Regions from separate parts of the Homo sapiens genome. Here all the other regions are linked to region 3. Evidence: fine-mapped expression QTL. A gene starts in region 3. Each other region holds a variant in brackets. All regions are shown on one strand. Distances are from middle to middle. Region 1 holds the start of ANTXR2 (ANTXR cell adhesion molecule 2). Region 2 has its middle 28 kb from the start of PRDM8-AS1. Region 3 holds the start of PRDM8 (PR/SET domain 8).

Evidence for each region.
Region 1: its variant is fine-mapped to the expression of PRDM8 in fibroblasts (GENCORD, PIP 0.95).
Region 2: its variant is fine-mapped to the expression of PRDM8 in fibroblasts (GTEx, PIP above 0.99).

What each region holds. Positions count from the first base shown.
Region 1 is chr4:80,065,438-80,076,033 of GRCh38, reverse strand. ANTXR2 (ANTXR cell adhesion molecule 2) reads left to right here and starts at 2,805. Exons shown (of 17, transcript NM_058172.6): 1 at 2,805-3,625; 2 at 4,380-4,451; 3 at 6,527-6,598. The coding sequence starts at 3,474. RefSeq lists enhancers at 2,456-2,735, 3,066-3,175 and a silencer at 3,356-3,515. The variant T/C (reference allele first, on the strand shown) is at 5,763.
Region 2 is chr4:80,163,943-80,174,538 of GRCh38, reverse strand. No RefSeq gene overlaps it. Among named protein-coding and RNA genes, the nearest start is that of PRDM8-AS1, 28 kb to the left of the region's middle. The variant A/G (reference allele first, on the strand shown) is at 6,202.
Region 3 is chr4:80,191,994-80,202,589 of GRCh38, reverse strand. It overlaps PRDM8 (PR/SET domain 8), which reads right to left and starts at 5,087. Exons shown (of 4, transcript NM_001099403.2): 1 at 4,827-5,087; 2 at 2,291-2,511; 3 at 1,069-1,300; 4 at 1-676. The coding sequence starts at 2,509. It overlaps PRDM8-AS1 (PRDM8 antisense RNA 1), which reads left to right and starts at 5,246. Exons shown (of 6, transcript NR_183912.1): 1 at 5,246-5,462; 2 at 5,602-5,763; 3 at 10,278-10,384. RefSeq lists a silencer at 125-204 and enhancers at 567-1,766, 5,244-5,859, 5,860-6,477.

The DNA.
Region 1 (10,596 bases), 130 kb after region 3:
ATGTATTCAGGTTGGACCAAAATGTGAAATGAGAAGTGGCAACACATACCTGGAGACTGGAGGGCTGCAGAAGTAATCAGTATTTTAGAACCTCAAGAAAAGATGAAGCCAAGGAGGACAGAATTAAGGTGCTTTAAGGACTTTCTTAATTAGTCTCAGGACTAATTAAGGACTTGCTTCTAGTGCTTAATTATTTGAAAATTATGAAGGCTGTATGTTTCCTTCTTACAAAAGTAAAAGTTATCTTCCATCTAGCTAGCCCCTTGCCCCTCAGTATCTTCCTCACTCCATCAGGTAAAAAGTGGCAGATTGATGCAGTTGATAGTGGTGGAATTTCCATCCCCAAGTGACCAGTTGGCAAAGAGTGAGAAGGGATGTTAGCCACCCTCCATTCAATGTTTGACATTTGTAATGAGCATATTTTCAAAATGGAGGTCTGCCGGTATATATTGAAGTTTTCATCCATTCATAATTCTCAGGTTAGTTGCTATAGTGATGATGGTCCAAGGTACCATTTTATTTTGCCTTTGTTAAAATAGAGATGATAAGACTGACAGAATGTACTCTGTGTTCATAAGACACCAAATTATAAACAAGACCTAAGACCATGCCAGGCAAAGGTCAAGTCACACACTCCTACACTTAAAAAATAAACTATATTCTAACTGCCAAAAGGGTTTTCTTTTTCTCTAGCATCTAAACAAACACTGGCCTCCAGATAAGCAATATTGAAACAATTGCATCTTACTGACTGCAAGACACTAACTAATTAATCCTCCACCCCTACCCCTGTTCCACAAGCCATAACTACAGCTCTGACTGGACAAGAGACTGATTTTAATAACTCTCCTGATAAGAGACCACTGACCATAGACTGGTTCTGGCTGGTTTACAGAGGCTGTGGCACTGAGTGCCTTCATGTCTTCTGTTTCACCTTTTGACATATAGGGCCTAATTATAATACATTTAATTGTTAAGTCTCCACCTCAAAGTGAACATGAGACATATGCAACTTGCATGTTTGCTTACTATTCATGTTTGCTTACTAAACATGCATGTTGCATATGTCCCATGTTCACTTTGATGTGGAAACTTAACCCACCTGCTTCAGAAATATGCATAGTTCATGTACCCCTTGCTTCAGAAATATTCATAGTTCCTCCTATAACCTGTTGAATATGTATACTTGGCCAACTCATTTAGCATAAATTCCTGTTCCACCCTTTCCTCCCTCAAAGTGCCTGCTTTTTGTCTCTGCCAGAGGCTACACTTCCCAGCCTGTCAAGATGTCCAGCCTGCAGCTGTAACCCTTTATAAGAAATGAAGTTCTCCTTTCCAAATTTATGAACCTCAGGATTGTTTGTCAACATGTTGCTACTGCAATAGTCTCCTAACTGCTCTCCCTGTTGTCACTGTTGCTAACTCCAAATTCATTGTCTCATTGCAGCCAGAATGATCTTTGAAAAACACAGATCATATCAATTCATCTGCCACTCCACTCCTGGGCTTAAACCCCTCTAATAACCTCCTGTCACACTCAATATTAAATATCTGAATTCCTTATCTCAGTAAACAAAGCATCACATAATCTGGCCCTTGCCTATTTGTCTTACATCATCTTACCTGCAAAGCTCCAGCTACACAGTTTTTTTTTTTTCTTTTTTGAATATGCTAAGCTAATGTCTATGGACCTTTGCAGTAACTCCAAATGTTTCCCCTTAGAGCTCTTGGAATGACTGGGTCTTTTTTGTTAGTCACTGAGTCTGTCATTCTTTATCATCACAATATTTTAAATTTCTACAGGCCACCTTTCCAATATGGACATTTTTTTTCCTTGCTTATGTATTTATTTCTTATTGTCTGTTTTCACTCTTCAGCCAGACTGTCAGCTTCATGAAAGCAAGGGCTTGTTATCTTGTTCTGTGCACTAACCTCCACTTCTGGAACAGTGCCTAGCAAATAATAGGCACTCAATGAATCTTTGTTAAAGTAACTAATTTTTATCTTCAAAGAGCTGACATATCTGGTTGTATATCAAATATAATAAATGAAAAGTTAAATACATATGGCAACAAACAGAAGAGATGTATATGTAAGTACTACATAAAGCATTGATTTTGTTAAAAATGAAAAGGTATTTAGGTTCTAAAAGCCAGTTTTGACTAAGGGAGGGCGGAAGTCACGGAGGTGGGGGGAAGAGAGAGGAGGGAGAGCAGAACTAGTAGACAGAGGATTTGTGCACAAACTTGAGTGCTTGCACAAGTTTTGCAAAGGAGACCTAGCTTGCCCAAAGCTGAAATTCTCCAAAACTGGAGCTTGCAGGGAAATGACAGTGGGCTGAAATATTTTGAGGTACAACTTTCCACTCCCAAAGAGGCCTGCTATCCCCTCCCACTCCCCACTCCGGCCTTTCCTTGGCTTGGCTTTTTTTAAAGAAAAAAAAAAAAAAAACTAAGCAGGTTTCTTTAGAAGAAAAAGAGGAAGTTCATAAAGAGTGTTTGTGGTAGTAGGGGTGGGGTGGAGTGAGGAGTGAGGAGGCCGTCACCTCCCATGGAATCCTTAGTCTTGGGTTTGTGAACCACGCATGGGGGCTGTTTTAGCACAGCTGCTAAAATAGGCCAGGCCTGCAGGACATACGGGTATGTTTAGTTTCTAGATAACTTTTGTTTTTCTAAACTCCTTCTTCCCTTTCCCAAATCTGGCAAGCGTTAGTCATCTTCAACTCGGCAGGAACCCACAAGTGTGCATGTGTGGCTCGGAGGCTTCAGCTGGGGCCCCGCCCTCGTCCCCAGGCGCACACTGACACACGCAGCCCAGACCCGGCCCGAGCGGGCTCCTGCCCTCGGCGTGGCTTCTCTCCAGCCGGGAGTCCCAGGGCCAGCTAGCCTCCTCCCCTAAAGGGGACGGCCTGTCAGCGCAGTGCCAGAGTCCAGCACCGGGAGGAAAGTTTCGGAGTGCGGAGGGAGTTGGGGCCGCCGGAGGAGAAGAGTCTCCACTCCTAGTTTGTTCTGCCGTCGCCGCGTCCCAGGGACCCCTTGTCCCGAAGCGCACGGCAGCGGGGGGGACTTCAGCCCTCCAGGCGGGGTGGGTTCCAGGTCCGGGTCCGAGGCGGGCGCTGGAGGCTCGGCCCCAGGCCGGAGAGGAACTCCTTTCGCGAGCTGTCGCCGTGGGCCCGCATTGTCTGCAGGAACTCTCCGGAATCGGGAGGGGGAGGACTGGATCGCGCTTCCACTGGGATTCGTCAAGAGTTCCGGCGGCAGCTGCGGCGGTGGCGGAGACTCCCTTTGTCCTCTCAGGACCTCCCTCTCTCCCTCCCTGTCAGCTGGTGGGTCCCGCTGCCGCAGGCGCCGGCGTCTCAGCTGCTCGCCGCCCCCCACCCCAGAGTGCGTGCCGGGTGACTCCCGCCACCTTTGCGACCCTCCTGAGCTTAGGGGACTGCGAGCGGGAGGGAGTCTCAGGCCCCCGGCCGCAGGATGGTGGCGGAGCGGTCCCCGGCCCGCAGCCCCGGGAGCTGGCTGTTCCCCGGGCTGTGGCTGTTGGTGCTCAGCGGTCCCGGGGGGCTGCTGCGCGCCCAGGAGCAGCCCTCCTGCAGAAGAGCCTTTGATCTCTACTTCGTCCTGGACAAGTGAGTGTGCGAGGGAGGTCCAGGGTCTCCTGGTGAGGGCGGCACTGGATCAGCTGGGGCTGAGGCTGAGATGCGTGTGCGCACCCCGGGGAGTGGTGTTGGAAACCCGCGGAGGGGTGCCCTGTTGCTGTCTTCTTTCAAAGGGCAAGCGCGTTCGGATCTGTGTGGGCGGAGATCAGCCGGGTCGGGGGTAGTGATTGGAGCCCCGGGCTACTTGGCTCTTTGGGGAGTTGGGGTATTCACTGTTTGCCAGTCTTTTGGCCTCTTGGGAAATGGGAGTGTGGCCTCTTGCGGGCCACGCTCCATCGGCCACAGAGTCCTTACCCACCTCCTCGACCCTGCTCGTACGCAGGCTAAAGTTTGCCTGGTTTTATCCTAATCATAGCGCTTTCATTGGAGCCAGGAAAAGCCTAGGGTTAACATGCCCAATGTGGTTTGCATTTCCTGCGAAGAAAGGCTTTTGTGTTTACTCTGAAGAGCTGGGTTCCACTCTAAACAATTAGGCAGGTATTTACCCACCCCAGAAAACGGGCTGACTTCTTCTTCTTCTTTTTTTTTTTGACGGAGTCTTGCTCTGGGACTGACTTCTTTAACTCTGGGTACCACCAAAGTTTCAGCTACAGATACCCTTACTTAGCTTGAAAAAGAGGCCAGGTGCCCCTATGTTCGTGGCATTGAAGAAGGAACCATTTCAAAATGTTTACTTTTCAGTTCCGTGTTTTGTTTCTCTGATCAGTTCAATTTCATCTTTCAGGTCTGGGAGTGTGGCAAATAACTGGATTGAAATTTATAATTTCGTACAGCAACTTGCGGAGAGATTTGTGAGGTATCTTTCTTACTTTACTTTTCTAGGCAGTGGAGAAGTAGAGCAAAGTGTAGAATTTCCCTTTTCTGAAACCTTTTATAGGAAAAACTTTTCCTGAAATGTTACTTTTAAGTGCCTCAAGGTCGTATTGCACACATGCTGTTATTAGGACAGCCCTTCAGTCCTTGAGGGCTTATTTCATCTGGATCCCAGAAACTTGGCTCAGACTCTGGGGAAGCATCTTCAAATACTATTCCAAATGTCTTTTTCTTTCCGAATTTTCATCTGTTTTGAATTTCAGTTATGCTTTCTCATAATTTATCACATTAAAAAAATAAATTTTATGCGAATAGTATCCATAATATATTTTTCTTTCCACACATTTCTTAGCATTATAGAGGCCCTCATTAAAACAAACAAAAAGTGTTGGAAAACTTCAAATGAACATGTGTTAATAACCCGCTACCAGAAAAGGCACTTGTGTGTGTGTTTAAAGCAACGACTTGTGTTTACACAATGTGTGGGTGTGTGGTTGGTTTAAAATTTAACTGTTCTATATATGCAATAAGCATCACCAGGAAAGACTGGTTTCCTCTCCTATAAAAAGCATTACTGGTATGAAATCCAGCTTACTCTCTTATTTAGAGGTAACTAGGAATTAGTGGCATCTCCTATTTAAAAATAACCTCAGGACACTAGGCTTTTGAGGCTTTTTTTTTCCTTCTTTTTTTTTTAAAGAAAAAATGCAATGAGCAAACACAAGTTTATCAAGATAATGGAAAGGACATGAATAGGAACTGTATCATTAAATATTGCTTCTTTCAGTCTTGTTAGCCCAAATGTTTTCTGTAAAACAGGCTTGGATGATCAAAACATTTTGAAAGTCATGTTGCAAGTAACTTCAAACAATCTGTAGAGGCCTAGGCAATCCTTGCTTTCAGTTATTGGCAGCAGTAAAGTTATCCCTATAAAAATGTATGCCTGTCCATGTTCAATCATCAGTCCCTTGCTTAAGAAGCCAAGTTTAACACTCATTTCTGGACAGGGTCTGAGGTAAAACTGTCTAGGAAAGAAAAACAAACAAGATCCTATGTCCCTAAATGTCAAAGGCAGAACAGACAGTTGTTTATAAATTTTCTAATTTAATCCTTCAATGTGAAAAGGGTGTCATGTAGATTTTGATCAAAAGCAATGAATCACATCACTACAACATTTTAAAGAAGCAAGCTCTTATCTTAACTCATTGATCTGGTTTTTAAGTTGGAATTCTATAATACACAGTTGTCTGGCTCAAGCCTAGTTGCTCAATTACTAACAATACATTGTAGGAAG[T/C]GAATAAGGGGTGACTAATGAAGAGACTGACTTTTAAAATATGTATAAGCCTTTGAGAGGATTCTGATTTTCAGTTTATAGATTCTAGTTTCATATCTTCAGTTTTGAATCTTAGTAGTAGTTGCAGAGAGTGTCCGAGAAGCAAGAACCGTTCTGTGAGAGACATGCCTAAAACTTGAAAGATATAGCTGACTGGGGCACTTGTTGCCAATGGAAAATAGCATGTTTGAGACTTAGAAAATAAAAAATGCCTAAGCAGAAAGTGATTTATTGTTTCTTTCACATTTTCCATGACTCTTTAAGTAGTCTTACTTCAGGATGACTTTTTTATAGACTCATATCATAGTTATGGTCATTAAGTCAAACTGGGTACTCTCCACCCATAAGTGTTGATAACCATAATCACTTTGAAGGGCCTGGCCACCTTTAAAGGAAATGTTGTAGAAAACCAAGGGAAGAGGAATTTTCTACGAAAGAATTTTACATCAGCTTAGAATTTATCTTTCCAGTTAGTCTCTCTCTAAATGCAAGTCCTTATGGGTCATGGAGGAGTATGTGAGTGCTGGGAAGCGTTGACTAAATCCAAAATGACTTATGCAACAATGTTAAGCAGAGTTCGTCTATTTACTTAGGGAATGTCATTTAAAAGAAGCCTGGACCATTCAGTGAGACCAATTTTAAATGAACCTCCCTAACTATACATCTGTATCGTATCAATATTTCTTTTTAAAAATGTTTTAACTGCCTCTTTTCTTATTTTGCAGCCCTGAAATGAGATTATCTTTCATTGTGTTTTCTTCTCAAGCAACTATTATTTTGCCATTAACTGGAGACAGGTTAGTGCATTATCATTTCACTGCAGGCTTTTAGTAGAGATGAATTTTAAAGGCATGATTGATATTTCCAAGTGGTGATTCAGGCCTCTCAGTGGAATCAAGCAGATGCACAGACAATTCAGTTCTCTAATAGAAGGGAAAGGAGGTATGAGTAATATAAAAGAGCAGTTAATCTGAAAATCAATATCATTTATAGTGGCTGTGGAATGTGCAGTGAAATCTAGATCCCTGTCTTAGTTGTATATTCACCACTTCCTACCTTCCCCGGCCTCTCTGTTACTGTAAGTAGTTCTACATTTTTCTTGTTTAGATATAATATATTAATCAACCAGGAATTTGAAGAACATTGAGGGGGAGAAAGATATGGATCCTTTTGGATAATTTCCTAGATTCAGTAGACATCCTGGATTTCTGGTCTTTCTCTGAGGTCCATTAATGCTGAATATATTCACCTTTATAAGGGAACTTAGTATATATCAATATGTATACCAATATATCTCTATATCTATCTACCTATCTATTTAATCTCCTTAGTGTTTTTTAAAAGGTGTCTTTTTCAGACCAATGTCACAGTATTTCATATGACCATTTCTGTGTCATTCAAACAGTGTCAATGACAAGTTAGAAATAGTCATTGATATATTTTATGTTATTTTTATTTTTTGAGACAGAGTCTCTCTCTGTTGCCCAGGCTGGAGTGCAGTGGTGCTATCTTGGCTCACTGCAGCCCCCACCTCCCAGGTTCAAGCAATTCTCATGCTTCAGCCTCCCGAGTAGCTGGGATTATAGGCACATGCCACCACACCTGGCCAATTTTTGTATTTTTTTAGTAGAGACGGGGGTTTCACTGTATTGGCCAGGTTGATCTTGAACTCCTGACCTCAAGAGATCTGCCTGCCTTGACCTCCCAAAGTTCTGGGATTATAGGTGTGAGCCACCACACCCCACCTCACTGACATGTTTTAAAGAATGGGATCCATAGTGGGAGGGAGCTTTTATTCTTCATTTTTATGTCTACTTTATTTAACAGAGTATGTAAGCCAGTTTTTGGTCAATAAATTCTTGTTGAATGAATGAATGAGTGGTTTCCTGTTATTTTGAAATAAAATTTTTCTGAACTGTAGTTTCAGCAAGGGAAGCTGGTGTACTTTGTTTTGCATGATATGTGAATTTCTGAAAAGTTAACTGTAAAAACAGTTTTTTGTAAATTAAGTTTTCCCTTGAAAAGGTCAAGAAATCATAATATCTAAAGGAACTGGGGGAGAGAACTTATTTATAATTCACTTAATTGATTTAGAAAATTATCCGTATAAGATTTTAATCTTTGTGCTTTTAGTTTTCCTTTTCCTAGAGAGGAAAATCTCCCTGCAGATGCTGAGTGCAGCCTAGGATCTTGTCTTCCCATTGATACTTCTCCTTTCTTTCTTCTTTTTAAATTTAATTTAATTTTAATTTTAAGTTCTGGGATACATGTGCAGGGCATGCAGGTTTGTTACATAGGTAAACGTGTGCCGTGGTAGTTTGCTGCATCTATCAACCCATCACATGCATTAGCTATCTATCCTGATGCTCTTTCTCCCCTGCACCCCTCACAGGCCCCAGTGTGCGTTGTTCCCCTCCCTGTGTTCATGTGTTCTCATTGTTCAGCTTCCACTTACAAGAACATGCAGTGTTGGGTTTTCTGTTCCTGTGTTAGTTTGCTGAGGATAATGGCCCTCCTTACTTTCTTGTGTGGATGAGAATGAATCTCATCAGGAGCCAGAGCCATGGTAGTCCACAACCCGTGTATGGCAGCTTTCTATGCTCAGTGATTTAACAGTTCTCGCCTTTATGAAAATAAATTTTCTCCATTGCCCAGCTTAATTTCCAAAGAAACAGCCTTGTATCTAGCCAATCCAGAAAAAAAAGAACCATTTTAACATTTATGGCATTCCTATATATAGAAAAACACTTAGCATCATGCCAGGCTTGTAGAAACTCTCAGTCATTGATAGCTGCAAACATTGTGCCAGGTTCTTTGCTAGACACTTTGCATATGGTTCCTCAGCACTTTGAAGATGAAGTGTAGGTCACTGGGTGACCAGATTGGTATTGCTTAGATACGCATGGAAGGGGTTTAAATCTTTAACCCACGTTAGTGATTCTTCTTTCATCATTGGTTGAATCTAATAGGGGAGACACTGAGATAGGTTACAGAAGAGGCCTTTCTTTCTTTCTTTTTTTTTTTTGTGAGACAGAGTCTCGTTCTGTTGCCCAGGCTGGAGTGCAATGGCATGATCTTGGCTCACTGCAAGCTCCACCTCCCAGGTTCACACCATTCTCCTGCCTCAGCCTCCCGCGTAGCTGAGACTACAGGCACCCACCACCACGCCCGGCTAATTTTTTGTATTTTTTAGTAGAGACGGGGTTTCACCGTGTTAGCCGGGATGGTCTCGATCTCCTGATCTCCTGACCTCGTGATCCGTCCGCCTCGGCCTCCCAAAGTGCTAGGATTACAGGCGTGAGCCACTGCACCTCACCAGAAGAGGCCTTTCTTTAAAGAGGCAGCATAATGTTGCAGCTAAGAGTCACTAGACCAAATCTACCTGCGTGTAAATCCTGGCTTTCCAATTTACTAGCCAAATGGTCAAGGATAAGTTGCTTAACCTCTTTATGCTTCTTCTTTTTTCATCTATATAATGACGGCAATGATGATGATGATGATAGTAATACCTACCCCATAAAATTGTTACATGAATGAAAGTTGATGAATGTGAAGTATTTAGAACAGAGTCTGGTATATAAGTTTTCAAGAGATAAAGGCTTTATCACTATTATTATCATCTGGAGCTAGGCAGTATACAGTATTTTAATGATCAGAGAAGAATCATGCTTACATAAAGAAAATATTGCCCTTCTTAAAAGGATTTATAATATTCCAAAAGGAATTTTAATAACACTACTTGCAACTTGTTTTATACATAGTTGGTTCCTCTGTCTCTTCCTAAATATAAACACTTTAAGTTTTAATAAATTTCACTATTTGTGGCATTTTTAATTAGTTTGGGGTGGCAGAAAATAACACTGAGAATGCCTAGGCTAGAGTTCCAGTTTTGTCACTGACTGATTTGGAAACTTGGGGCAAATTGTATAACAGTGTATCAGTTTTATGTCCATAAGGTGCAGGACATAAAATCTTCCATATTTGAGTTTTTGTGAAGATCAAAATAAGATAATGTATATAAAGTTCCTTTGTATAGCATAGGACAACCTCCAATAAAGGACATTATTTTCTTGTTCTATATTGCTATTTTACTAATTTTATTTAATTAAATCAGTAACTTCTCAAGTTTCTGTGGTCCTCTATATTTGGATATAGGGTCACTTTTCCTCCATTACACACTTTTAAGTGTGAAGAAACAATTTGCATATTATATGCAGATCAGTAAACAAATGATTCCACAACTATTGTGAATCTTTGTTTCAAAGCCTAGAAATTGGAATTCTGCATATAAACTATTAAAATCTTGATGTTATATATTACAATCACAAATAGATCAGAGTGTGTGAGGAAAGCAAAGGTTAAGCAAAGAAAACCAAAGGTTAAGCACTGCAGGTTTCACAATTTTGTTTCTAGCACTCATAATTCTTCACAATCTTGGTAAATAAGTAGCTCTTTCATGTTTCTCAGAGTGTTGCTGAAGATTCTTAGTAGAGATGAGGCAAGATTAGAAGGTAGTAAATACTTACCGTAGGGCTGTGTCTTCTGTTATGCTTTCAGCATGGCATCCGGTACTATGTAAATGCATGAATAAAGTAATAAACATGCCAAAAAATGATGTTATGCATTTTATATACTCGTAACTTAAAAACCTTATTCTTTTAAATACTTTAATTTGAAACACTGCCTTCTTTTCTCTTGCTCTCATGATTTTTACCCTCCATATGTCTGTTAGTCCATTCCTCCACCTACCCACCCACCTACCTAAAGACTTGCTTATCTTATATTCAATGCATTG
Region 2 (10,596 bases), 28 kb after region 3:
TAATATATGTACATGTGTATATATAGGGGAGTGCACAGTATATTGTTATATGTGTTCTATTTTATCTTATTGTTCATCTCTTGCAGTGTCTAATTTATAAATCAATTATTTTCAGAGGTATGTATGTATCAGAGAAAACATAGTATATACAGCATTTGGTATTATCTGTGATTTTAGCCATCCACTGGTGGTCTTGGAAATAATTGCCCCATCCTCAGGTAAGGGAGTGCTACAAAGATGTGGACCAGGTGATGAGAACAAACGAGAGAGTGAGGGACACAGAAACCAGCATAACAAGAAGATTTTAGGAGAGGAATTAGTGTTTCTACAGTCTGCTAAGGACCAGAACCTTGGAAGAAGGGCCCAGTGTGAGACCTACAGAAACAGCTACTGACACAGAGACAATGGTGTAGCAAGGAGAGGACAGGGAAGAAATAACTCATCTTTTCTTTTCTCACATGCTCCAATTTCATGTTAATGCCTTCCAATGGCCTAACTCAACCGGAAGCTAACTAACCAGCAAGGTTCTGGAGCATGCTAACGAATCTGCATGAGTCAGCCTCTGGCAATATAGAGCCAGGAGAGGACAGAGAATGGATTTTGGAGAGACAAATGGAGAATAACCATTACATTACTACTATTATTCACAAATAGAATTATCTGAGAACTCTTTCTGAAAACATCTTTTTCATGCACAGTTTCAACTGGAAGTAAAAACTTACTGGGTTTTGTAAACTTAAGCATCCAAGATTTTAAAGAATCATTTCTCAGAGCCCTTTGGCTGGAACATTCCTAGTAGCATTTAGGAAGGATTTCCAGAAGTCTTGGGAGGCTTTGCAAGCCAAAATCTGGAAGAATTTGAGAGTATGCTTTTATTGACTTCCTTTGGGCATCCCCAGGTCTCTCATCATTTGGTGGTTTCCTGTGTCAGCACCAGTCTTACTATGCCTGGTTAGTCACTTGCTGATTGTTTTCAAGGAAGCCAGCCAGGCTTCAACAAAGGGTGACTACCTCAAAACAAATCAGCTGCACAGCAATAGGAACTCCTACTAATGGCTTCCCTTGAATTCACAAACTGTGTAGATTTTAGAATGAAGTAACATTTTCTCTTTCCAACTTTGCCATCCCTGTCTCTTCCTCCTGAACCTGAACTAACCCACAGACAAAAAAATGGAAGAGGACAGTGGTGGAGAAGCATGCTCTCTTTCCTGAAGCCTTAGATTAAAATTATACTCAAGGCCGGTTGTCATGGCTCATGCCTGCAATCTCAGTGCTTTAGGAGACTGAGCTGGGAGGATAACTTGCGACCAAGAGCTCAGGATCAGGTTGGGCAACATAGCAATATTCTGTCTCTGCAATAAATAAATAAATCAAATTATCTGATTGTGGTGGCACGTTCCTGTAGTCCCAGCTACTGAGGAAGCTGAGGTGGGAGAATTGCATGAGCCTGGGAGTTCAAGGCCACAGTAAGTTAAAATTGTGCCACTGCAATCCAGCCTGAGCAACAAAGGAAGACTTTAACTCTAAAAAAAAATTATAGCCAATATCAGAGTCTTGAATATTCACTGTAAACATCAGCACAAACAAAAGCCCGATTTCTAAATCTCATAGAAACTAAGAGTTTGAAAACTTGAGAGGACTGATATAAAGTTGGAAGTCAGTGTTTCAAAGGAGAGAGACAGAGTTAGCTATAGGAAAACAGAAAATTAGGAGTGGAAAGCAAAGAAGAGTCTTGTAAGTAACATATATAGCTGAACAATAAATACAAGTGAAATAGATTGACTTCTAGAATGGCAGTGTGGGAAACTCTGCTGAGCCACTCCTCAGTGAAACTGGTGAAAATTGTGTGTAAAGAAACAACCACTTAAATTCTCTGGAAATGGTCCTAAGGGCAAATGGTAAATAAAGAAATACCTATTAGAGGAAATTATGAATATCTGTCAAGAGAGGTGAGTCTGTGACATTTGAACTGAAACTACTACTTTCCTTGCCCCTCCCAGCTCAGTGAGGCAGAGACTCTACTCCAGACGCTGCAGCCAAGAATATGACTCTTTATATTCCTTAGGTGTCAGCTGCAGGGCTTTCATTGCAATAGGACATAACTTGAGCTTTTTTGGTCCTGCCCGTAGCTGTCTGTTGCTAAGGCTAAGTCTTAGGTGAATACAACTGGGAGGAGGAAGCTTCCTTCTCCCACCCAACACTTTCTTGTAAAAAGGAAGTTCTACCTTGGGTGTGGTGCATTGAGAATGAAACTACCTTTGCAAAAATTATGACAGTGAGAGAAATGTAACCTAGCTGACACTGCCATACTTCTAACTTAACAAGCTAACTGTGTTTGCTCATTCCTGGGTGTAGGCGAAGCTAATTGTGGAAGGAATTTAGCTTATAGTTTAACTTTAAATAAAGGATAATAGTCTCCCCCAAAAACTGACCCCCTCTGGGGACTGAAACCACCTTTGTAGGACTAATGAAAGGCCAAAAGCTTAGGATTATGAGTGGGGAATGAATTCTGGTAAGATGTAGATGTAGTTAAATGATAACCAGCCACAGTTCCGAAGATGACAAGATTTGTAAGTTCTTTAATTGCTCTTATAGATACCAACGGTATTGTCAAAACCCAATATTGGTCTTTGAGGTATTTTTCAGACTTTTGCACTTTGGCTGACCAGTTGATGCCACCTGGATCTGTGACTCATACCAGGGAACTGACTTAACCAATCCTGTGACCCCCTACCCTGAAACTGACTCAGCACATGAAGAACATTTTGGATACACCTATGATTTCATCCTGAACCAATCAGCAGGACCTAGTCCCTAACCCCCTGCCTGCCAAATTATCCTTAGCCTCCGAGCTTTCAATACTTAAACTCTTTCTTTGCTGCAGTATCTGCTATTTTCAGGGAATTGGCTTTTCTGGGCAGTGGGTAAGATGAACCAATTGGGCTGTTAACAGGAATACTGGAGCCTTGGGAGCCTTTTCCTTGGCCTTTGAAGTAAAGTTTCCACACCATGAGTGGCAAGCTGAAAGACCTGCAAACTCCTCTCTCACCCCATCCACCAAGCATTCAGCAATTAGAGCCAGGGTATTACTCAGAGAGAAGCTTGTCATTGTTTCCACCCCCAACTCCGTGCTCTAGCTCAGAAATTTTGCCTAGGGAGAGAATCAGGCCATAAAGCATGCAACTCTTTATCTCTTCCCAAGGGATCTTACTTTATTCCAAACAAAGTGTAGATAATTTTAAACTTAAGGGCACTCTCAAGAACAGTAGAAGTTGTGGTGAAAAGCAATTGAGAGGAAATTTTGGGACCAAATGAAGATATAGCCTAGACTGTAGGCCAGCTAGTTTGTAAGAGAGAACTGGGAAATAAGATAGCTGACAGGAGCTCTCTTGGAGTTAATACAAATAGCAAACACTGATCTCAGAAACTTTCCCATATAAAGTGTCACAATATTATTAGATTTATTTGTATATCTTTTTTTTTTTTTTTTTTTTGAGACAGAGTCTCACTGTGTCTCCCAGGCTGGAGTGCAATGGCACAATCTCAGCTCACTGCAACCTCTGCCTCATGGGTTCAAGCGATTCTCCTGCCTCAGCCTCCTGAGTAGCTGGGATTACAGGCACCTGCCACCATGCCCAGCTAATTTTTGTATTTTTAGTAGAGACGGGGTTTCACCGTGTTGGCCAGGCTCGTCCCAAACTCCTGACCTCAGATGATCCTCCCGCCTTGGCCTCCCAAAGTGCTGGGATTACAGGCATGAGCCACCATGCCCGGCCAATTGGATTTATTTGTAAAGAAAAAATTATGTTCCAGGGCACTGTTGGAAACAATTAAGCAATAGGCCAGAAATTAGTAGAGTTTAACAGCTAGGTGTAATCAGCGAAAGGGTGGGAGAGAATCTTACCAGTACCACTACTATCCCAGGATAATTGTTAGATATACCCAGAACTGTGCCTCACTGATCAGAGAGCATCAGAGGCTTACCATGATGTGTATGTTGAAAAGTGAGGGAATGGAAGCCAGGGAATAGACTTCAACTAAAATAACTCAGCACTCACTAAACAAATAAACAAGAAAATAATAATCGCAATCCTAGAGGGGGGCGGGGTACCAGTTTCCAGAGTTACTAAGATATATTATCTAAAATGTCCAGTTTCTAACAACAAATTATGAGCATGCAAAAGAATGGAAAAGTATAAATTGTATACTGGATGAAATACATGCAACAGAAACTTCTTATCAGGGTAAATTAAACAATTAAATCAAAAAGCAGAGATTATCAGACTTGATTTAAAAACATGCTTTAACTATATGTTGTCTTCAGGATAAACTTTATATTCAAAGACATAAATAGATTGAAAATAAAAGGATTTAAAAATATCAAAGACCAGGTGCAGTGGCTCATGCCTGTAATTCCAGCACTTTGGAGGCTGAGGTGGGCAGATCACTTGAGGCCAGGAATTTGACACCAGCTTGACCAACTTGGTGAAATCCCATCTGTACTAAAAGTACAAAAATTAGCCAGGCATCGTGGCACACACCTGCAGTCTCAGCTATTTAGGGAGCTGGGGCATGAGAATCACTTGAACCTGGGAGGTGGAGGTTGCAGTGAGTTGAGATGGTGCCACTGCACTCCAAACTGTGTGACTGAGTGAGATCCTATCTAAAAAAAAAAAAAAAAATTCAAGCAAACAACAACCACAAGAAAGCTGGCGTGGCTATACTAATAACTAAGTTAAACAGTTTTGCAGGATACAAAATCACTCTGCAAGAATAATTTGTATGTCTATACACTTACAATAAACAATATGAAAATAAGTTAAGTAAACAATTTCATTCATATTAGCATCAGAAAGAATAAAATACCCACAGGAGCAAATTTAACAAAATAAACGCAAAATTTATACCCTGAATACTACAAAATATTGTTAAAAGAAATTACAGAAGATTAAATAAGTGAAAAAACATACCATGGTCATGGATAGTAAGACTTAATATTGTTAAAATGGCAATATGTTGATCTACAGATTCAACATAATTTTTATTGGAAACCCAGCTGACTTTGCTGACATTGATGGCTGACTCTAAACTTAATGCGAAATTGCAAGGAACTCAGAATACCAAAACAAACCTGAAAATAATAAATAAGGAGAGCTTATATGTCTTGGTTTCAAAACCTACTACAAAGCAATTGTAATAATAACAGAGTGATACTGGCACAAGACAAACATTTTTATTTATTTGCTTAGGTGCCATAGCAGAATATCACAGACTGGATGGCTTAAGCAACAGAAATGTATTCTCTCACAGGTCTTGAGGCTGAAAGTCCAAGATCAAGGTGTCATCAGGAATGGTTTCTGGTATGAACTTTCTTCCTGAGTTGCAGATGGCTGCCTTTTCACTGTCTTCTCCTATGTGAGCATGCACTTGTGGTGTTTCTTTCTCTTGTTCTAAGGATACCCGTCCTATTGGGTTCAGGTCCTACTTTTATGACCTCATTTAATCTTCATTACCTTCTTAAAGGCTGTATCTCCAAATACAGATGGGTTAGGGCTTCAATACATGTATATGGGGGGCAGGAAACACAATTCAGTCCATAACACAATGCACAGAATTGAGAATCTAGAACTAAACCCATATCTCCATGGCCAACTCATTTTGTGCACAGGGTCCTAAAACATTAATGGGGAAAGAATAATCCCCACAAATTGTGCTGGGACAATTGGATAGCCACAGGCAAAAGAATGAAGCTAAACCCTTACCTCATACCATACACAAAAATTAACTCAAAATGGATCGAAGTCCTAAAAACTGAATGTTCTTAGAAGAAAACATAGAGGTAAAATCTTCATGATTTTGGATTTTCTAAAGAATTCTATAATATGATATTCAAATTAAAAGCAACAAAAACATTGAGAACTTGCAAATCATATATTTGATAAGAGTCTTACAGCTACAGTATAGAAAGAGCCCTTGCTACTCAATAATAAAAAAGTGATGCAATTAAAGAAAGAGCAAAGGATTTAAATAGACATTTCTCTAAAGAAGATTTAAAAATCACTAATAGGCACTTGAAAAGATGCTCAATATTATTAGTAATGAGGGAAATTTAAATCAAAACAACAATGAGGTATCATTTCACACATACTAGATTGGTTATAATAAAAAGGACAGATAATAACAAGTGTTGCCAAGGATGTG[A/G]CAGTTCTTCAGAAGGTTAAGTTATCATATGATCCAGAAATTCTATCCTTTGATAACATATTCAAGGGAGTTTAAAAGATATGTTCGCACAAAAACTTGTATGCCCATGCTCATAGGATCACTATTCATAACTAAAAAGTGGAAACAACCCAAATATCCATCAACTGATGAATGAATAAACAGAATATCTTATATGTATACAATGGAATAATATTTACCCATAAAACCTAATGATATACCGCCACACACTACAACAAGAATGAACCTTGAAAACATTATACTAAGGAAAATAAGCTAGGTACAAACTGACAAATATTTTATAATTCTACTTGTATGAAGTATTTAGATTAGTAAAATTCATAGAGGCCAAAAGTAGAACAGTGGGGTGAGGAGGAAAGGAGAGTTATGATTTAGTGGGTACAGAGTTTCTGTTTGAAACAACGAAAAAGTTCTGGAGATGGATAGTGGTGAAGGTTGCACAACAGTGTGAATGTAGTTAATGCCACTGAGCTGTACACTTAAGGAAAAGTGTTAAAATGGTAAATTTTATGCACGTATATTTTATCACAACTGCACACATTGCAGGTGAGATAATATTTTGTGATGGGGTTTTAATGTGGAGGGAGGGTAAAAAGACACATATGGTGGTAATGTATCTATAGTCTACCTAAAGTAGTGAAATACTTATTCTACGTAGACTGTGCAAAACTAGCATGCTATCTTATAAGCCCTAGTGCAATTGCTTAAAAGCTATACAAAATATATAATAAAAAACAATGGATAAACCTAAATCACTAGCTACCACTTCACAACACTAGAATGGTTGTAAGAAAAAAATAATAATAAGTGTTGGCAAAGATATGGTAGGTAATTTCTCAAAAAGTTAAACACAAAGTTACCATATAATCCAGAATACTAAAAAATGCTTAACCTAAAATAGGAAAGGGAAAACAGGAGAACAGAAATGAGATACACTGAACAAAAACAAATAATAAAATGGTAGCTCTAAATGCAAACTTTCAATAATTGTATTAAATGAAAATGTTCTAAACACACCAATGGAAAAGACAGGGAAAAAAAACCACCACAAAACAAATTTATGCTGTCTACAAAATAGTGTGTTCAAATATATTTGATCAAAAAATATTAGGTCAATAGTAGAATGATAAAAATGAACACCTGAAAACATTAATCAATAGATATCTGCAGTGGCTATATTGATTACTGATATAGACTTTATAGCCAAAAAACTACCAGGAATAAAAGGGTCAGTATATAATGTTAAAGGAGTCAAATTATCAATAAGATAAAACCATCTTCAATCTGTATGCACCTAGTAATAGTAATTAAGTTACACAAAACAAAAAGGAATGGAAGTTAAAAGGTAAATAGACTAATATACAATTATAATTGAAGACTCCAATACTATTTTCTCAGTAACAGAATAACTAGTAGACCAAAAAATCAAGCAGGATATAGAAGAAAAAAGTATCACTATCGAACAACTGGATCTAATTGGCATTTATAGAACACTCCCCCAAACAACAGCAAAATATACATTTTTTCCCACATGCAATTGGAATCTTTACCAAGATAAGACGTGTCCTGGAACATAAAAAAAAATTAACAAATTTAAAATATTTGGAATATATGAAGATGTTCTCTGACCACAGTGGATATTAAACAAGAAACAAATATCAGAAAATTAACAGGAAAATTTCTAGACCCTTGGAAGTTAAATAACACGTATTGAAATAACCCATGTATCAAAGCAGAAATCTCGAGAGAAATTAGAAAATATTTTGAAATGAAGAAAAATGAAAATACATAAATTTTTTTTTGATGCAACTAAGTCACTGTTTGGATTAAAATTTATAACAACAAGATACATCTATCAGAAAAGAAGAGATCAGGTGCAGTGGCTCATGCCTATAATCCCAGCACTTTGGGAGGCCACACTGGGCAGATCGCTAGAGCTCAGAAGTTTGAGATCAGTCTTGGCAACATGACTAAACTCCATCTCAAGAAAAACACAAAATTAGCTGGGCATAGTTATGTGCGCCTGTTTTCTCAGCTACTTGGGGGCCAAAGCTGGAGTATTGCTTGGGAGATGGAGGGTGCAGTGAGCTATGTTTGTGCTGCACTCCAGCCTGGGTGACAAAGTGAGACTTGAAGGAAAGAAAGAAAGAAAGAAAGAAGGAAGGAAGGAAGGAAGGAAGGAAGGAAGGAAGGAAGGAAGAAAGGAAAAAGAAAGAGGGGAAGGAAGGAAGGGAGGGAGGGAGGGAGGAAAGAAGGAAGGAAAGGAAAGGAAAGAAAAGAAAGAGAGGGGGAAAAAACATTCTAAAAAAAAAAAATCTAAGCTCCCACCTTAAACTAGAAACAAGAAAAAAAAGAAACAGAAAGAAATAGTAAAAATAACAACATAAATCAAATGAATAAAAAGCAGAAACACAATAATCAAGGAAAACACAAGCTGATACCCTTAAAAGATTGATACAATTTATAAAGCTCTAGCAAGATTTACAAAGAAAAAAGAGACAAGACACAAATTTCCAGTATCAGGAATAAAAGAAGAGACACCATGACTGACTTTGCAGGCTCTAAGAGGATACTAAGTTAATACTATTGATAAATGCAACAAATCTGACAAATTATGTGAAATTCAAATTACTTGAAATACATCAAATTACCAATACTTACCCAAGATGATATAGATAATATGAATGGTCCTACAGCTATTAAAACCTCGAATTCAAAGTTAACCAAAAAAGCTTTCTGAAAAAGAAATCTTTATGCTTAGGTGTCTTAACTGTTAAATTCCACTAAATGTTTAAAGGAGATATAACACTAATGCTAGTTAAATTCTACTAAATATTTAAAGGAGATATAACACTAATGCTACATACTTTCTTCCAGAAAATGGAATAAAGGAGATATTTCATAATTTATTTTATGAAACCACGAATAAAATTCAAACAAAGGTGATACAGGAAAAAAAATTCCAAAGACCAATATATTCCTCATGAACATAGACACAGTCCCTGGTAAAATATCAGGAAATTGAACACAGCATTATATAAAAGGTAAACAGGAAACCAGCACTAAGGAAAAATGCAATTTACTCAAATAATGCAAGGTTTGTTCAATAATTGAAAAGTAATCTGTGTAACTCATCATATTGACAATCTAAGAAGAAAAACCCACATTTTATCAATTGATCCTGAATTGGCATTTGACAATATTTGATGTATATCTGATATAGATACAGATATACAAATTTTTTGAGACAGTCTCGCTCTGTCACCCAGGCTGGAGTGCAGTGATGTGACTACAGCGCGCTGCAACCTCTACCTCCCAGGCTCAAGTGATCCTCCCACATCAGCCTCCTGAGTAGGTGAGACTACAAGTGTGTGCCACCATGCCTGGATAATTTTTTATTTATTTTTTGTAGTGACAGGGTCTCACTATGTTGCCAGATCTGGTCTTGAACAGCTTTGCTCAAGCCATCCTCTTGCTTCAGCCTCCCAAAGTACTTGGATTATAGGCGTGACCTACCACACTGGCTTATATTTTTAAAAAGTTGTATTGTGTACATATGTGCAGTGCAACATAATGCTTTGATATATGTATACATTTGGAATAATTGAATCAAGATAATTAGCATGTACATCACCTCAAATACTTTTTTTTGTGGTGAGAAAATTTAAAATCTGCTCTCTTAGCAATTCTCAAGTACACAGTACATTATTATTAACTATAGTTACCATGCTATACAATAGATCTTCAGAACTTATTTCTGCTGTCTAACTGAAACTTTAAACCTTGTGACCAGCATCTTCCCATACTCTCTTTGTCCCCAGCCAGCCCCTAGTAACTGCCATTCTACTCTCTACATCTTTTAATTCAACTTTTAAAGATTCTGCATATAAGTGAGATCATGCAGTATTTGTCTTTCTGTGCTGGACTTATTTTACTTAGAATAATGTCCTCAAGTTCCATTCATGTTGTTACAAATCACAGAATTTTCTTCTTTTTTTAAGGCTGAATAGTATTCCATTGTGCATATGTACCACATTTTATTTGTTCATCTGTTGATGGACACTTAAGTTTATTAAATATCTTGGCTATTGTGAATAATGCTGCAATAAACACAGGAGTGCAGATATCTCTTCCACATACTGATTTAATTTCATTTGGATATGTACCCAGAAGTGGAATTGCTGGTTCATATGGTAGTTCTATTTTTAATTTTTTGAAAAACCTCCATATTGTTTTCCATAATTGCTATACTAATTTACATTCTCACCAGCAATGTGCAAGAATTCCTTTTTCTCTGCATCTTCACCAACATCTTCTATCTTTTTTTAAACATAAAAGGCATTATAATAGATGTGA
Region 3 (10,596 bases):
GGACTTGGCGGCGCGAAGAGGCGGCCGTTCTCTTCCAGGCCGAAGTAGCTGCCCGAGGCTCGGTACTGCTGCGGTGTGCACACCAGATCCTCCTTGGAGGCCGGGAGGGGCCGCTCTACGAAGCGGCCCCGGCCCCCTACCAGACCAGCGCCACCGCCGCCCTCCGCCGCCTCCTCCGGGAATTTCCTCTTTCCTTTGCCGCCGCCCGTGGCGATGCCGTCGGGACTCAGCTCCGCCTCCTGGTGGCCGCCGCCGCCGCCGCTGCCGCTACCGCTGCTGAGGCTCTGGGCTGGGGAGCAGCTGCTGCCTCCCCGGGAGTTTTCCAGCTCCCTGGCCAGGTTGTGGAAGTCTGTGGATGGCTTCGCGCTGCTGCCGCCGGCGGCAGCGGATGGGTTGCTGCTTTCCGGGGAGGGGGATGGGTAGTGGTGGAGGGGGCCGGCTTTGCAAAACTTGGGACCCGGGCCTAAAGGTGCCTCCTGCTGCTGCTGCTGCTGGTCTTTGCCACCGCCGCCGCCGCCCCCGTGGTCCTTGGTGCCCACGCCGCCGCCTTGTTCGTCTTGGGGACTTATATCAGCGCTGTGAAGTCTCTTGGGGCAGCGGAAACGCAGATGCGCCACATAGGGGAACTCAAACTGGAAACGTTGGCTGCATTCCAGGCATGTGTAAGGGGACGACCCTGCTTAGTGAGCAAACACCACACACACGCACGCACGCACACACACACACACACGCACACCACATGATTACTCAGCATCGCCCCCAAGCCAGTTTGCCACCATCCCCTTGACAAATCCACCTTCATTTCTCAGGGCCTGAGTGCCTGAGAAAAGAATGACCAACCTGATCTAACTTTCCCTCCTGATTTGGAGGGAATACAGCAAACAAGCAAGTTTCCTCGCTTTATCCTCACCTATCTGTTTAACTTCATTCCAGACTACATCTCAGAATCTTCCTATGAGACACCCGAAGGGAAGAAAGGCGCGCCAACGCGCCGGGTGAGCCCCTGCCGCTCCCTGCGTCTCTCCCCCGCTAGTTAAGGGCCCACACGCCGGTCGCGAGCCAACCTACCATTCATTTTGTTGTGGGATCTAGAGGGGCAGAGCAAGAGTAACTCAGTCAGTTCTTTCCCGTACCAAACTAGTAACTCCTCGTCTTTGGCAATCCTGCGGAGAGAGCGGTAGAACAGCTGTCCGTTTTTTATGTAGGCTTCAAGGTTCTGCTCTTCCTTATCTCTGGCCGATTGGACCAACCGCAGCCACATGAGACCTTCTGAGGAACCATTTGCTGCTGAGGTGTCTACCTGCGGTTTGAAATAAATGAAAGAAGACAAGAAGGAGAGGGGGAGAGGGACCCTCATGAGGGAATGAAATCAGAAGAATCAAGACCATTTCTTCTATGTTAGTCTTTTCCAAAAATTGTCTGAGACCACGCTTCCAAAAGTTTGGCCCAAGCTGGGACCTGTCCTCATGTTTGTAACCATTAGGCAAGATAACCATTCTTTGAAACACTGCATCAATCATATAGTTTATTTAAGTCACCGTTTTTATATATTGGTTGAATACTAAATGAGGAAATTTCTTCTTATAATTTAGTGTTAACCCCTTGAGAGTTTACTTCTAAGTTATTCCACATTACAAAGGTATGGAGAATTTTGTTTGTTTCAGAAATAAAGCAAGCTTAGATCTTAGAAATTATGCTATGGCAATCATGTTCCTAATCTTGGCTAGAACAATTAATAGATTTTCTTTGTAAAGAAGAATAGGAAATGAGAGGTCTGAATCTTCCAATTCAGACATATGGATTTGATGATGCTTTACTGTCAAAACCATAAACATTTTTATTTAAATACAAACTCTGGGCACTAGCTAATATTACCAAAGAAACTAATCTTTAGGGGATGAAGAAGCCTCCTCAAATGGAAGGCAGATGTACCCAATACTTGTCAAAGAACTTGCAGAAACTAGTTAGTATGCAAATAGCCTCCACCCCAGTGAAATCTCCCAGAGTTTAGGAAGTCGTGTTCATCACCAGGATAATCCAGAACTGAAGCACTGATTTAGATATTTCTAACATTCCAAATCAAATTTTGTCATTTATTCCAAAAAATCAGTTGACAATAATTTGAGTTTAATTTTCCTTTTCTAATTTTTGATGTGTGAAATGGGATTGCTTGCATTATTGCATTTTTCCACAGGCAAAACCTATCTCCACTTGTCATTATAATTATTTTTAGTCCATTTCCAACAGGACATTACCCTCATACACCTACACAGCTACAGTGGAGACTTACCCGAAAGATATACGGTACTGTTCTCTTGTCAGTAGACTTGAGAGCTATGAAAGCTATGCTGTCATATAGGGAAGTATGGCTCAGGACACAGGGACCAAATATAGCATTCTCAGGGATGTCGCAGGTGGTGTAAACGCTGGTAAAAATATCTGTCAGACATTGTTGGACAGCCTTGGCATCTCCATCCCAGATGCCTCGCTGGATGCCAGTATCCTCCATCACTGGAGATAGACACACAGCACAAGAAAGTGAGTTATGTTACTGCTTTTAACGCCATTAACCCAAGCAGAACTGTCCAAATACTAGGTAGATTTTCCTTGCACATGCCTGATTTTTGCATAGCTCTTATTTCAAAATTAAAGCAGATAAACATGGCATATTTTAAAGATGAAAACTAAGGGATACTTGTTAAAATAATTAGAATAGTGGGAGATCTGGAGCTGACTGCTTGGGAGAAAGAAAAGAAAGGGCTAGGAAAGACTAGATAATTTTTGCATTACCTTGATGTTGGATTGGGTAGGTTTTAGAGGTGAAGTTCCAGGCAGAATTATATATATATGTACACACACACACACACACACACACACACATATATATATATATACATATATATAATTTTTTAAACCAGCCTATAGACTTCCCTTACTGAAAGAAACTTCTAACCCTTGGGGGAAAGTGCCTGTCTGCCTATGTATTGAACTGGGTGCCCGGGAGCTGATTTTTTTCTTTTCTTCCAAGGAGGGGAACAGCGTTAGTGAGCAGGCGGAGACAGCGGAGCATGGCGAATGGATTTCAAGTGGAATGTCAGGGCCACTAATTCTGTGTCAGCTAACCTTTCTCTGCAGCCTACAAGAAGGGACGTATGTCTGCTCATTACCATAATCCAACACTGTTCCTCTGAGGCTTTAATTAAAAGCAGCAAGCAGAGGTAATTTTTTTTTCTGGACGTGCTTATTTATGGATGAGAGTGAATCCCGGTTACCTTGTTATACAAGGGGGTGGATTGAGTCACATGTGGCTCATGAAGTGAGCAGGTACAGGACAGGCCTAAAGTGTCCCCAGTCTGAAATACTGTGTGTAATGACTGGTAAATTTTCACTCCCCCTACCCCATATGACCCTTTTTGGGCAAGAGGGGGCAGCCCTGCTTGAGCACTCCTCAGTGGGCTCCCCAGCTGTTTAATCCGCAGCAATTTAGAAAGTAATGCCCCAATGCCCTTTATTAAGGTGTCATAAAGGGACATTTTCCTTCCTCTGGACACCCCATACAAGACTTATCACTAAAAAAAAAAAAAAAAAAAAAAAACAAAAAAAAAAAAACCCAAAAAAACCCAGGTATTTAAATTTTTAAACTAGCTTTGAACTAGCTGCATTGCTTAGTATTTCAGACTAATCAAAATATTCCTCCAAGTTTGTTGTTCCCTAATAATGTCACTGTTGGCAATTATTTATGTATGTTTTATATAATTAAAGTAGCAGGAAAGAGTAGATCTAATTCTTTTCCTGCAAAGCTGTTCATTATGGAATAATGTCAGTGACATCTATTTTTATTTTAATTTATATTAACCAGTTAACCTTACACGTGTGATTACAAGGTGTGCTTTTTTCCCCCCATTCCAGCTAACATAGCCTAAAACTTTGGTTAGCCTCATTTTCCATTCATCCTCTTGCATCCCCCAAATGTCAAGTGTTGGGCTGTATCTCCCAGACAGCAGAAATAAGGGAAAATATCCATAAAGTAGAAACTTTTTTATTCTGCATCATCTATCCCTGGTCATTTTTACCCCATACAAGGTAGACATCCTGATTTTTTCATTTCAAATTAAAATACATTTTAAAAACCCCATAACCTCTTATCTCCTTTTCAACGGAATCCTATTCTCCTCTTTTCAATTTCCTTCAATTCAGCGTTTTATTCCCCAATTTCTCTCTTCCTTTTAAAAATCTCTTTCACACAAGCATTTCATTGTGCCGGGAGGTCGCCCCGTCACTTCGGGCAACAGCAGGGACACAGTCATTAAAATGCAGTTCTACCTAACAATACGGCAAAAAGGTCCTCACTACGCCGCGCTAATAGCGGTCGGAGTCGCAGCGCCAGGCGCCACGAGCCTCAAGCCCATCACAATAACCGCTGGGCAAGAGCCTAGGAGCGCCCGCCCGCGTGCGGTCGCCTTTGCCACGCAACGTTTCACAGCTCCGTGCCCCGCTCTAGGCCCAGGTTCTTATCCGCCTGCCCTGGGAATATACCCCAGAGCCGGCGGGGCTTTCTGAAAGCCGGTCGCTGCTGCCCGCCACTGGCCCGTCCCTCTAGGCAGGCATTGTCTGGCGGCCGCGCGCTCCCCAGTCTCCGGCTTCTCCGGCAAAGTGCTCACCACCCGCTCCTCCTTTTGTACAATATTACTGGCAGTAGACAGCCCCTCAAGAATTATTTTTCTCTCTCTTCTGGATAATAAGGAGACGGAAGACAAAATGTTCTACTCTTTCCACCAAACTGTCTTCCTCCCATCCCCCTCCCACATCAATGCAAATAGACTTACCAGGAATAAGGTCAGTATAGAATCTCCCAAATAAGGCCACCTGGAACCGGGAAGATGCAATCGAGTGTTTCCTTTTGCCTATTGTATCAGTGTATTTCCATGTCAAGAGGTGTTGGTGTTGCCGCCTTTTAGGCTCTTCCTGAAGAGATAAGAGAGAGATGGAGAGATGGGGAGAAAAAGATTGGGGGGGTGGAGGGAGGGAGGGAGGGAGAGAGACGGAGAAACGGAGAGAGTTGTACAGATGGACCCGATGCAGTGACTGACTGGCACGCAGACACACACTTTTTGTTTGCTGCACATAATCTGCCCAATGACGCGTGACAGCCCACGTCCCCTCCCTTTAACTCTTTGCTGGGCCAGGCGCTCCCTCCGGCGCCGCCTGCCTCGCAGCTTTTTCCCCCGGCCTGCCCGCGCCCCGCAGATCCTGAGCGCCTACCCCGGGTGGCAACGCCTCTCAGAGAGCGTCCCGGCCCGCCTCCTCCTAAAGCTCGGGCCCTCTGGGACTGCTAGGAGGGGAAAATCGTTTCAGGATTGGAAAGGAAGGTACCAAAATGATTGGAGAGGGCCTTTCCCCGTTTCACTAGGCACTTGGAGAAGCTGTGACAGAGAGCTGGACACCCAGCGCGTGCGGACCCCGTGCGTATTTCCCCGGAGTCCGCGTTCCGTGAAAGGGAGAGGGGTGCGGTTAGCTCCAGGGATTCTCTAGCCCTGGAGCCACCGCTGATTTGCGCAGCTAGTTGCCTGGGGGTGATAAACGGGCGTCGTCTCTCTTCAGGAGCGCCAACACTACCAAGCTTCCCCCTGCAAAATTCAGAAAGGATGCGCTTTGGTGAGAACTTGGCTCAGCCTTCCCGTGGCTTGGGAGATGAGGTTGGAGTGAGAATGTCACCAGACCTCGGAAGGGGACATAACGGTACCTCCTAGTCCCAGGACACGGGTACGTGGGCGGAGGTGGGGTGTGGGAGGTTGGTGGGAAGAGCGCAGGTTACTGGACTCAAACAGTTCCTGTTTTTTTTTTGTTTGTTTTTGTTTTCGTGGGGTTTTTCCCCCCCTCTGCTTGGTGCGTTCTGCGCAGCCCCAGAGGGAGTCTATAATGGGTACTGTTGGCACTCTGAGGTCTTGGGGTTGGGGGGCAAGGGTGATTAAAAATAAAAATGATTACCAAGATGGGCTCCGGAAAGCTTTTCACATCCAGCGGGTGGTGGAGGAGGGGATGGAGTTGCCGAGGCCGTCTCGGGAGCCTCGTTTGTGCGCTAAGCCACTTAGAGGCGCTGACTTGCCCCTTTAGTGCAGCAGCTGATGCTAATGACTTGAGGTCTTTAACAGCCTGCAAGTTGACTCCTTCAACGGGGCTGCAACACCACGTCGCTGGGGAATCTCGGGCTTCTTTTTCACAGTTCAATTCTCTACTCCTAAAGGAAGAAAGGCCTTTGAGTGGTATAGACAGTTTCTCAACTCCTTCAGCCCCACACACACCACCACTACTTTGAAGTGGGCAATCTGTCAGCATTAGGATAAATCGGATTGTGTAGCTAGCTAAAGTGGAGGAGGCAGAACCACAACGTAAGGAGACAGCCTCGTTGTTGTTTTTCCTAGTGTTGAAATAATGTATTTGGGGAGTTGGCAAAGAGCAGCTTACCATGTTAGTTTGATCCTCTCCCAGCTTTGAGACCCTTCTCTGGAACTCAGTGGGGTATTGAGGCTTTGACAGCCTGGTGACTGCAGTCCCAGGAGGCCAGGGGAGGATTTTGCTGAGGAGAAACAAGTGCAAGGACTTTCCCATGAAGTTCATGTTCTTCCTTGTTCTCTCTCTCTCTCTCTCTCTCTCTCTCTCTGTGTGTGTGTGTGTGTGTGTGTGTGTATTTCCTTCTCTTTTCTGGTTAGTACCCCAGGCAAATTCCGAATTGCTGCCTAGAATTAAGCTGAAATTCACAGAAGGAAGGGCTGCAAAATCCCCATATATTCAGAGAAAATGGGGAATCCCTTAGTTTTCAGGTTAGCTACTGACTTTTCAAAGAAAGCTTCTTGAAGTGCAGTTTTATGTACTTTGGCTATGTGCAATTTTATCTACTTCGGCTAAGGTTGGCTCCTAATGACCAAGGCTCAGTGCAATGAGGGCTCTCTCACATGCCTGTATGTAAGAATCTGCAGCTATACTGAGCTACCAATTGTCTTCTGACTGATTGCTCCATTGAATACTAGATTCACTTCTCAGTCTCTCTCTCTCTCTACACACACACAAACACACACACACACACACACACAAAGTATGGACACATGGTCCCCTAATACTTCTTTAAAGAATGGGTGGAAGCATTAGAAATGTGAAAATAATGTCTCAAACATCTGGAAAATAAACCTCAGGTTTGAAGAATAGTGGCCAGAAACTTAAGTTAATTCAGAGTAGAAGAAAGAAGAAAAATAAAGAGCAGAAGAGGCACGGGTGTAAACAACTTCAAGTTAAGAAAGAAAAGTAGCCATAAGAGAGTCATGTGGTCCCTTAGAAACTAGACTGATAAATGCAATATGGTGTGTGAGGAGCAGTGTTTAAGAACATAATTTCATTAATCTGTCTAACAGAACACTCCTTAATGCTTTCTTTTGCTGTTATTTAGAGAATTGGAATTTTATCTTTCAGGAAAAGTCATCTGTCCATGCAAACCATTAAAAAATTATCTTACATATTGTAAATATGTAAGCCTCTACTCCAGAATGTGGACATTTAGAAAATAAACTCTAAATGGAAGGCATTTTTCTTGTGCCTGGCCTTTCTCTTATTAAATACAGAGACCATTTAAACTATATTTCTTTTGAGGTACTAAAACCTTGACTCCAGTTTGTATAAAATAATGTTTTTGGTACTTAAGTTGAGGGTGGAACAGCTTGACCTTTTTATGTCTTAAGCTAGAAAACAGCGACAATTTTATACATCTGAGAAGGGAGCAATTTATTGAGAATCTGGCCAACAGATGCTTCATTTCAGTTTCACTTTTTTGCCCTCTAATTAATTTTTTTCCTACTGCTTTCAGGTAGAGATCCTTAAATATAAGAATTTCTCACATTTTATGAATCTGACCTACCCTTTTTATTATGAGTTAAATAACTGACATAACAAAACAATATAAGTAAGATTAAGTCGAAATTCTTACTTGAAGAGTTTTCTAGTAATTTAAGTGGTACACATTTTGCTTGGTAATATAAATGTCCTAAATGACAATAATTAATAGGGGATAAAGAAAATCTACAAATTATTTTTATTTCTGTAGAAATTTATGGGCTAAAATGGTACATAAACTACTTTGAAATCACTCTGCATTAATACTTACTGGAATTCACTGATACTAAATGAAGGGTTGAGGCATTTATTCAGCCTCAGACAGTACTATAAAAGTGTACCTAGTCAATAGTTTTATGTAATTCATATGGAACAATGGGTTTATGCATATATTTGGAGCTCTCTTCCCTAGGATTTTATTTCCAATTAAGTAATTAGAAGAATGACAATGAAGAGTGGGTATGCTCACCTTGTTCCACTTTAGCAAGGCTCTTTGGAGTCCTGGCAAAAATACACATGTAGGAAACTGTAGTGTTATTTTGGAAGAGTGGGCTGGAGAGAGGTTGATAAATGACACCCCAGGTGGCTTTTATGACCTAAGTGAGAGGGTGGAGAAAGGGTAAGAAAGGGAATTTTAATTCTTAGGGAGTATTAGAATGGGAACACTCTTTCTCTTCCCAGGGTTCAAAAATGGAGCCCAAAATATTTCAACTTCTGTGATAAGAGGCAGGTAACATCTCCAAGAATAATTCACGTAAAGATTATTATCCCATGAGAATGAAAACACACTGATTTTCTTTTTCTATATCTTTCTAGGTCCTGGCTTACCCACCTCTAACTCTATTGCCAAAGCACTATGCCAGCAAAGGCTTGATTGTCAAAAGAGTATGGCAATTCATGGTGAAAGGGGGGGAAAAAACCCACACACTGGAAGATAAGAGGATGCCAATGGAGCAGACAGTGGCAGCTCCTTCCTAAGCTTATTAATTTCCCACAGGGAGGTCTCTGGAAGGGGCTGTGAGGGTTGAGGGAGGAAGAGAATAGATCTTCAAGGAGGAGTATTGTATTACCTAGCCTCACCATTCAGAATAAGGAACTTTTTAAGGGATAAACTTTACTGACTACTTGTACATGAAAGAGAAACAGAAATGATGGGCTGGTCAATTAAGAAAAACACCAGGCCTGTGCCAAAAATGTTGTTCAGAGGGTTGTTAACTCATTTTCTACCACTTTGCCTTTATCAAGAGAAAGATACATGGTGGGTTTTTAAAAAGACCCAGAGGGGTTTGTTTGTTTGTTTTACATTTTGGTGAGTCGAGAAGAGCCATGCTTGCTGAGTTGGGTAAAGGATGATGTGAGGGGGTGGGGTGTGGGAAGGGCTACTCGTTTTTTATAAGTATACATTGCAAACTCAGTTTAGGTCTGTTCCTCACCCTAAGTATTGTAGTTGGCTCACTGGGTATTACATGAGCAAATGTTTTCCAGGCTGGCCCTGGGAAAGCCAGAGACTCAGGGTTGGGTAATTTTGTAGCCTGTGAGGAAGGACTTCAGGCTCCCAACTGTAGGGATCATTACTTCTGACTCATACTTTTCTCTCTTGGGCTTTTCCTCGTAAATGATCCTGCTTTTAATCCTGCTGCTCCTGCAGCTACTACTACCACCATTATCATTACAATGATAATCTACCTTTCTCAAGTTTAAAACTTTCTCTCTTAGCCATTCCCAAGTTTTACTTACACTTGTGTTGGAGTTCAGCTGAGAATGGGATAGTCTTTGAAAGCTGTATGTTATTATCTTCCTCTCCTGGATCTGGGTTGTAGTGAACTGGCTTAATGGCCTCTGAGTATGACTTTTAGAAGGGCTAGCAAACCGAAGTGACATTGTGCACAACTACCAACAGATATGAAATCAGTGCCCCATACTCATCTGTGTGAGTGTGACCTCTGAACCAAATCCAATATCCACTATTTCAACCCCCTGGGTTCTCCCAAATGTTATACTCTTCCCCAGATGAGTGTGTAAAGATCTGGCAAGAAAAGGCTTGGATTTTTGTCAAATCTGTAGGTTCCAAAGTCCTTCCTAGACTCAGACACCACACCCTTTGAACGCATCTCAGTGTGAAGGGGGTTGACTGGTTGTAGCCAGTTCTCCATCAGTCACTCTGAACCTCCTTACCCTCTGGGTCAGGATTTTTAGGCAGACTGCAGATCAGGGGATGTCTAGCAGTCTCAAATTGGTGTCCAGCAGTCTCAAATGAAATTTTGAGAAGTCTAACTCTAGGCCTTGGGAATGTGACAACATTGAGAGGCTTTACATCAAATTTCTTCACACAGCCAGGAGAATGGACATCATCCCAATTCAGTACCTGTGTGCCACCCTTTTCTTCTCTGTTTTAGGTGGATTGTAATTCCTGAGTTAAATAAAGAGGCAACGATAGACACACAGCATATATATCCTGGGCAGACTACACTCCTTGACATCTAATCCCAGTTAGCTTTCTGAGGTATGGACTGTAAGAATTCGGGCTGCTGGGGAAAAAGCAGCAGAAAGCATGGCTCTTCTGGGAAAGAGGTCTAGGCAGGGGACACAAATGTCCAGTACTTGGAATAAACCCATGGTACACTTTCCTGAGGCCTGAAGAGAGAGACATTTCATTTTCTCCAGGAAAAGAGAAGCGAGAGAAAGAAAGTAAAAAGAAAGGAAGAAAGAGAGAGA